2 linked regions of the Homo sapiens genome follow. The main gene of each other region encodes a partner of the protein of the gene in region 2 in a complex. Each region holds a gene or a part of one and is shown on either strand. Other genes may lie near its edges.

The links.
Region 1: RBL1 (region 2) and LIN52 share a complex: the UniProt entries of both Homo sapiens proteins name them as parts of the DREAM complex.

Annotation. Positions count from the first base shown.
Region 1 is NC_000014.9:74,091,159-74,094,980, reverse strand, and holds part of LIN52 (protein lin-52 homolog), read right to left. Parts: intron 3,750-3,822; coding exon 3,675-3,749; intron 1-3,674.
Region 2 is NC_000020.11:37,089,277-37,093,098, forward strand, and holds part of RBL1 (retinoblastoma-like protein 1), read right to left. Parts: intron 1-3,822. UniProt on the Homo sapiens protein: Key regulator of entry into cell division. Directly involved in heterochromatin formation by maintaining overall chromatin structure and, in particular, that of constitutive heterochromatin by stabilizing histone methylation.

The sequences.
Region 1 (3,822 bases), on a different chromosome or scaffold from region 2:
TAAAATAACATCTTTGCCTGAGCTCAGGAGTTGGAGACCAGCCTGGGCAACACAGTGAAACCCCGTCTCTACTAAAATACAAAAGATTAGCTGGGTGTGGCGGCATGTGCCTGTAGTCCCAGCTATTCAGGAGGCTGAGGCAGGAGAATTGCTTGAACCCGGGAGGTGGAGGTTGCAGTGAGCTGAGATCACGCCATTGCACTCCAACCTGGGCAACAGAGCGAGACTCCATCTCAAAAAAAAAAAAGTTCAATCTCACCAAAAAGGAAATGTAAAATGAAACTAATAGATTAGTAACATCTAATACTGGCTAGTATGTGAGGAAAGGGGCCCTCATACAGTTATCCTCTTCCATGTATATGAAGATATGTGTACATGGGTATTCACTGATAAACTGTCTGTAAAGTCAAAAACTAGATATAGGCCAGGCACAGTGCCTCACACCTGTAATCCCAGTGCTCTGGGAGGCCAAGGTGGAAAGACAGCCTGAGCCCAGGAGTCTGAGACCAGTCTGGGCAACACAGTGAGATCTTGTCCCCCCCAAAATTTTTTAAATAGCTGGTTGTGGTGGTACATGCCTGTGGTCCCAGCTACTCAGGAGGCTGAAGTGAGAGGATCACTTGAGCCCAGGAGGTTGAGGCTGCAGTCAGCTGTGATCACGCCACTGCACAAAGCCTGGGTGACAGAGTGAGACCCTTGCTCAAATTAAAAAAAAAAAAAAACTACAAAGTAGATATAACTTAAGTTTCCAAATAATGTATGAATACATAAACTATAATATATCCATACAATGAAATATATTTAAAAGAATGAAGTAGACATACACATACCAAGATGGAACTGTTCACATGTGGAGTAAGTTAAGTGGCAGGCCACATGCATATGACTCCAACATTATGAAGAAAAAAAAAATCCCTCTTATACATACTTAAAAAATTATTATTTCCTTATCTGTATAAAATAGGTCAAAAGGATTTGTACCTTTTTTTTTTTTTTTGAGACAGAGTTTCACTCTTGTTGCTCAACCTGGAGTGCAATGGAGTGATCTCAGCTCACTGCAATCTCTGCTCACTGCAACCTCTGCCTCCCGGGTTCAAGCGATTCTCCTGCCTCAGCCTCCCAAGTAGCTGGGATTACAGGCATGTGCCACCACGCTCAGCTAATTTTTTGTATTTTTAGTAGAAACGGGGTTTCGCCATGTTAGCTAGGCTGATCTCAAACTCCTGACTTCAGGTAATCCGCCCACCTCGGCCTCTCAAAGTGCTTGGATTACAGGCGTGAGCCATCACACCTGGCCGGAGTTGTACCTTTTACAAGGATTTGTACGATTAACAGTGGTTAACGTTATAAGAGTGGGCCAGGTGCAGTGGTTCAGGCCTCTAATACTAGCACTTTGGGAGGCTGAGGCAGGCAGATCATCTGAGGTCTGGAGTTCAAGACCAGCCTGTCCAACATGGTGAAGCCTCTTCTCTACTATAAATACAAAAATTAGCCAGGTGTGGTGGCATGCACCTGTGATCCCAGCTACTTGGGGGGCTGAGGCAGGAGAATTGCTTGAACCCGGAAGCAGAGGTTGCTGTGAGCCAAGACTGCACCATTATACTGCACAGCCTGGGGAACAAGAGTGAAACTCCATCTCAAAAAAAAAAAAAAAAAAAAGAGTGATTGAAAAAGGTGAGAAAACGCTTTATATATCTCAGTATTATGTGAATTTCTTATAAATGTAGTTTTGGGGGCTGGCTGTGGTGGCTCACTCCTGAAATTTCGGCACTTTGGGAGGCCGAGGTGGGCGGATCACCTGAGGTCAGGAGTTCAAGACCAACCTACTTGGTGAAAAGCCGTCTGTACTACAAATACAAAAATTAGCTGAGCATTGTGGCGGGCACCTATAATCTCAGCTACTCGGGAGGCTGAGGCAGGAGCATCGCTTGAACCAGGGAGGCGGACGTTGCAGTGAGCCGAGATTGCACCATTGCACTCCAGCCTGAGCGACATGAGCAAGACTCCATCTCAAATAAATAAATACACAAACAAACAAATAAGTGTAGTTTGGGGGATTTTTTTGAGAAAGAGTCTTTCTCTGTTGCCCAGGCTCGAGTGCAATAGTGCAATCTTGGCTCACTGCAACCTCCGCCTCCCGGGTTCAGGCAATTCTCGTGCCTTAGCCTCCTGAGTAGCTGGGATAGCAGGTGTGCACCACCACGGCCAGTTAATTTTTGTATTTTTGATAGAGACAGGGTTTCGCCATGTTGGCGAGGCTGGTCTCAAACTCCTAGCCTCAAGTGATCCACCCGCATTGGCCTCCCAAAGTGCTGGGACTACAGGCATGAACCACCATGCCCAGCCTATAAATGTAGTTTTAAAAAGTAATTAATGGCCAGCCATGGTGGCTCACGCCTGTAATCCCAGCACTCTGGGAGGCCGAGGTGGGTGGATCACCTGAGATCAGGAGTTTGAGACCAGCCTGGCCAACATGGCAAAACCCTGTCTCTACTAAAAATACAAAAAATTAGCCGGGCATTGCGGCATGTGCCTGTAATCCCAGCTACTCGGGAGCCGAGGCAGGAGAATCGCTTGAACCTGGGAGGCAGAGGTTGCAGTGAGCCAACACTGAGCAATTGCACTCCAGCCTGGGCAACTAGAGCGAAACTCCGTCTAAAAAAAACATATATATATATATACATATATATAATAATAATAATTATTGTTGGCTAGGCACGGTGGCTCACACCTGTAATCCCAGCACTTTGGGACGCTGAGGCAGGTGGATCACCTGAGGTCAGGAGTTCGAGACCAGCCTGGCCAACATGGTGAAACCCTGTCTCTACTAAAAATACAAAAAATTAGCCGGGCATGGTGGCATGCACCTGTAGTCCCAGCTACTTGGGAGGCTGAGGCAGGACAATCGCTTGAACCCTGAGGCAGAGGATGCAGTGACCCGAGTGCACCACTGCACTCCACCCTGGGCGACAGAGAGAGACTCTGGTTCAAACAAAATAATTATTATTGTTTAATGGCTCCTTATTTTCTGAGTCACACTGTGTTCTGAACAAATTAAACCACCAAACAGCTATTCTTAACACTGGACTTCAATCTCTTCTCTTTGAAATAAAATAAAACTTTAATCATTAAAGTTAAATGATAACTCTTCAGCCTGGTCTGATGGTAATGGGTTATCAGAACTTTTTTTTTTTTTTTTTTTTTTTTGAGACAGAGTCTCACCCTGTCACACAGGCTGAAGTGCAGTGGCACAATCTCTGCTCACTGCAGCCTCCGCCTCCTGGGTTCAAAAGATTCTCATGCCTCAGCCTCCTGAGTAGCTGGGATTACAGGTGTGTGCCACCACATCCAGCTAATATTTCTATTTTTTTTTTAGTAGAGACAGGGTTTCACCATGTTGGCCACGCTGGTCTCAAACTCCTGACCTCAGGTGATCCTCCCAACTCGGCCTCCCAAAGTGCTGGGATTACAGGCATGAGCCAACAAGCTCAGCCTGTTATCAGAACTTATTAACGTTAGTGTCACTAAAGTTTGTATACAACCCCCCACTGCTAAATTTGACTAGCTTCAAAATAAATAAAAATTTACAAAATAAATAACTCTTTAAAAATCTCTTTAAAAAGGAACATTGTTTCTCCTGCATTGACTCTGATATAAAGAAGGCAAAAACTTACATTGTTCTGGCCAAAGATCTGGTGAGGCACGGTCAAGTTTTTCAAAACTTAGCAAAGATGCTTCCAGATCTGTCCCTAGAACAAAACATCCAGATGAACCAAGAAGACAGGAAACACATTAATGTATATGATACTTCAATCTCAAAGG
Region 2 (3,822 bases):
GTTAGTTGCAGTAATGGGTATAAAACTCCTTACTCTTAGTTCTGTGTTTTTACAACTATAACATGCTAAATTAATATTAATCTAAAGATAAAAGCCTGGCTTGGTGGCTCATGTTTGTAATCCCAGTAACTCGGGAGGCTGAGGTGCGAGTATCACTTGATGCCAGGAGTTTAAGACTAGCCAGGGCAACGTAGACTCTAAAAATGAAAATAAAAAAATTAGCCAGGCATGGTGGTGCTTGCCTGCAGTCCCAGCTACTTGGGTGGCTGAGGCAAGAGTATCGCTTAAGCTCAGGAGTTCAAGACTGCAGTGAGCTATGTTTGTGCCACTACATTCCAACATAGGCAGCTGAGCGAGATCCTGTCTCTTAAATCCTGTCTCTTAAAAAAAAAAAAAAGAAAAAAACTCTTTCACCTACACTCCAAATCTAATACAGGCATATGCCACATAACATCTTGGTCAACACTGGACCACATATACAATGGTGGTCACTTAAGATTATAATACTTGCCAGGCGCGGTGGCTCATGCCTGGGAGGCTGGAGCGGGTGAATCACTTGAGGCCAGGGGTTCAAGACCAGCCTGGCCAACATGGCAAAACTCCGTCTCTACTAAAAATGCAAAAAATTAGCTGGGTGTGGTGGCATGCACCTGTAGTCCCACCTACTTGGGAGGCTGAGGCAGGAGAATAGCTTAAACTCGGGAGGCAGAGGTTGCAGTGAGTAGAGATCGTGCCACTACAGTCTAGCCTGGGCAACACAGGGACACTCTGTCACACACACAAAAAAGATTGTAATACTGTATGTTCTAACTGTTCTATATATTTAAAAAATTATAATTTACTGTACCCCTTTTATGTTTAGATACACACATACTCACCATTATAGTTGCCTATAGTGTTCAGTACAGAAACATGCTGAACAAGTTTGCAGCCCAGGAGCAACAGGCTATATTAAACAGCCTAGGTGTATAGTAGACTACACTATCTAGGTTTGCATAAGTATACTCTGTGAAGTTCACACAACAAAATCACCTAATGTTGCATTTCTTAGACCATGTCCCTGTCATTAAGTGAAGCATGTCTGAATTACCAGAAGAGTTTTATTAAAATTTGTCAGCATGACTTTCTTGATTTTAAGAAATGGCCTTGATGATCCTGAAGTTTCTATCGTTTTTGCTTTATGTTTCTCTTTAGTGTGGCAGGGAAAGGCAAGAACAGAGTAAAAAGTTGGCAAGGGAGTCACACATAAAAAATTAATATTAATCTTACGCAACATGAAGGAGACTGTCATTTTTGTAAGGTAAACATTTGGGGATTTACCCCAAAACATGTCATCTTTAAAATACAGTCATATGCATTGCTTAATGACAGGGATATATTCTGAGAAATGCAACATTAGGCAATTTTGTTGTGCAAACATAGCATAGCCTACTAAACCTAGGCTATATGGTATGCTTATTGTTTCTAGGCTACAAACCTGTGGAGCATGTTACTATACTAAATACTGTTGGTAAATGTAACACAATAGTAATTATTTGTGTATCTAAACACAGAAAACATATAGTAAAAATAAAGTATGTGTGGTCCATCACTGACTGAAACATTCTGCAGCACACGACTGTAGTAAGCACGGCTCTTTATATTAGTAGATATCTCAATTTACAATGCCACAAAAAGGTGACATTTGGGAATTCAACAATTTTCTGCATTAGACTTCAGACATCTCCAAGCTAGAATCACTTCATGACTTCACTGCTGAAATACAATAGCTGAAGTTTAAGGATTAAGAATTACGGATAGGCCGGTGCGGTGGCTCACGTCTGTAATCCTAGCACTTTGGGAGGCCGAGATGGGTGGATCACCTGAGGTCAGGAGTTTGAGAGCAGCCTGGCCAATGTGGCGAAACCCCGTCTCTACTAAAAAATACAAAAATTAGCCAGGTGTGGTGGCGCACGCCTGTAATCCCAGCTACTTGGGAGGCTGAGGAAGGAGAATCACTTGAACCTAGGAGGTGGGGGTTGCAGTGAGCCGAGATCACGCCACTGCACTCCAGCCTGCGCAACGGGAGTGAGACTCCATCTCAAAAAAAAAAACAAGAATTACAGATAAAGGCCAGGCACAGTGGCTCATGCTCGTAACCCCAGCACTTTGGGAGGCTGAGGCAGAGGATTGCTTGAGCTCAGGAGTTCAAGATCAGCCTAGGAAACATAGTGAGACCCCCGTCTGTACAAAAAAGGAAAAAATTAGCCGGGTATGTGGCACGTCTGTAGTTAGAGCTACCTGGGGAACTGAGATGGGAGGATCATTTGAGTCCAGAAGGTTAAGGCTGCAGTGAGCTGTGACTGACCCACTGGACTCCAGCAAGGGTGAAAGAACGAGACTCTATCTCAAAAAAAAAAAAAAAAAGAATTACAGATGTAAATCTGATAGCACAACACAATAGTGTTCTTATACACTGTTCCACAGACTGTCTTTAAGACCAAACCCTAGAAGGATAAAAAGATTGATAAAAAGATTTCTTGCAATAATCTAAAAGGGGTGGGTAGAAATGGGTGGCCATCAATAAACCCAATGTTCCTACCCTGAAGGAATGAGAAGTCTTTTCTCAAAGCACTAAATGAGGCAGGTAAGCTTAAAGATGAATATTTTTACAAGCTTTGATTAATGAATTGCTTGGGAATAGGGTCTGGTCATGGTGGCTTACGCATGTAATTCCAGCACTTTGGGAAGCTGATGTGGGTGGACTGCTTGAGTTCAGGGGTTCGAGACTAGCTTGGGTAACACAGCAAAACCCTATCTCTACAAAATACAAAAAAATTAGCAGGACGTGGTGGTATGCGCCTGTAGTCCCAGCTACTCTGGAGGCTGAGATGGGAGAAGTGCCTGAGGCCCTTTTTTTGTCTCAAAAAAGAAAAAGAGAAAGAGTTGTTTGGGATTAGCATCCAAGTATTATAGAGCCTTTGGATACAGGCTACTAAATGAAAATTCTAGCAAGATGGTGAAAATATAAGTCCTAAAATTATTGTTTCGATTTTTTTAAAGACATTAAAGAATACACTGATTTTTATTTTACTTTTTAAAACAGGGTCTCACTCTGTTGCCCCAGGCTGGAGTGCAGTGGTACAATCAGGGCCACTGCAGTCTTGACTTCCCAGGAATGAGGGCCACTGCAGCCTCGACCTCCCAGGCTCAAGCAATCCCCCCACCTTAGCCTCTGGAGTAGCTGGGACTAAAGGCACATGCCACCACACCCAGCTAATTTTTGTAGAGATGGGGTTTCACCATATTGCCCAAGCTGGTCTCAAACTCCTGGGCTCAAGTGATCCACCTGCCTCAGCCTCCCAAAATGTCGGGATAACAGGTGTGAGCCACCATGCCCAGCCTATTTTATTTTGTGTAGAGATAGGGTCTCACTATGTTGCCCAGGCTGGTCTTGAACTTCTGGGCTCAAGTGATCCTCCTGCCTCAGCCTCCCAAAGTGCTGGGATTATAGGTGTGAGCCACTGTGCCTGGCCTGACTTTCTTTCCTTAAAAAAGTCAACTATTTTATTCCATGAGAATAAAATAGAATACAATTCTATTTGATAAAATCCTATTTCATAAAAATTCTATGAATTCTATGATATCAGAAACCATTTTTTGCATTTCTAAGGCCTACTTGCCAGGCCTTAGAAATACAAAAAATGTTTTCTGATCTCACAGAACTTCACATCTGGAGCTAAGAAGAGGAACAGATACTATCATTTATAATTGGTGAGATATACAAGCTATAAGAAGAACTGAAGATAAAGTGTTGTAGGAGAATATAGTGCAGTGAATAAC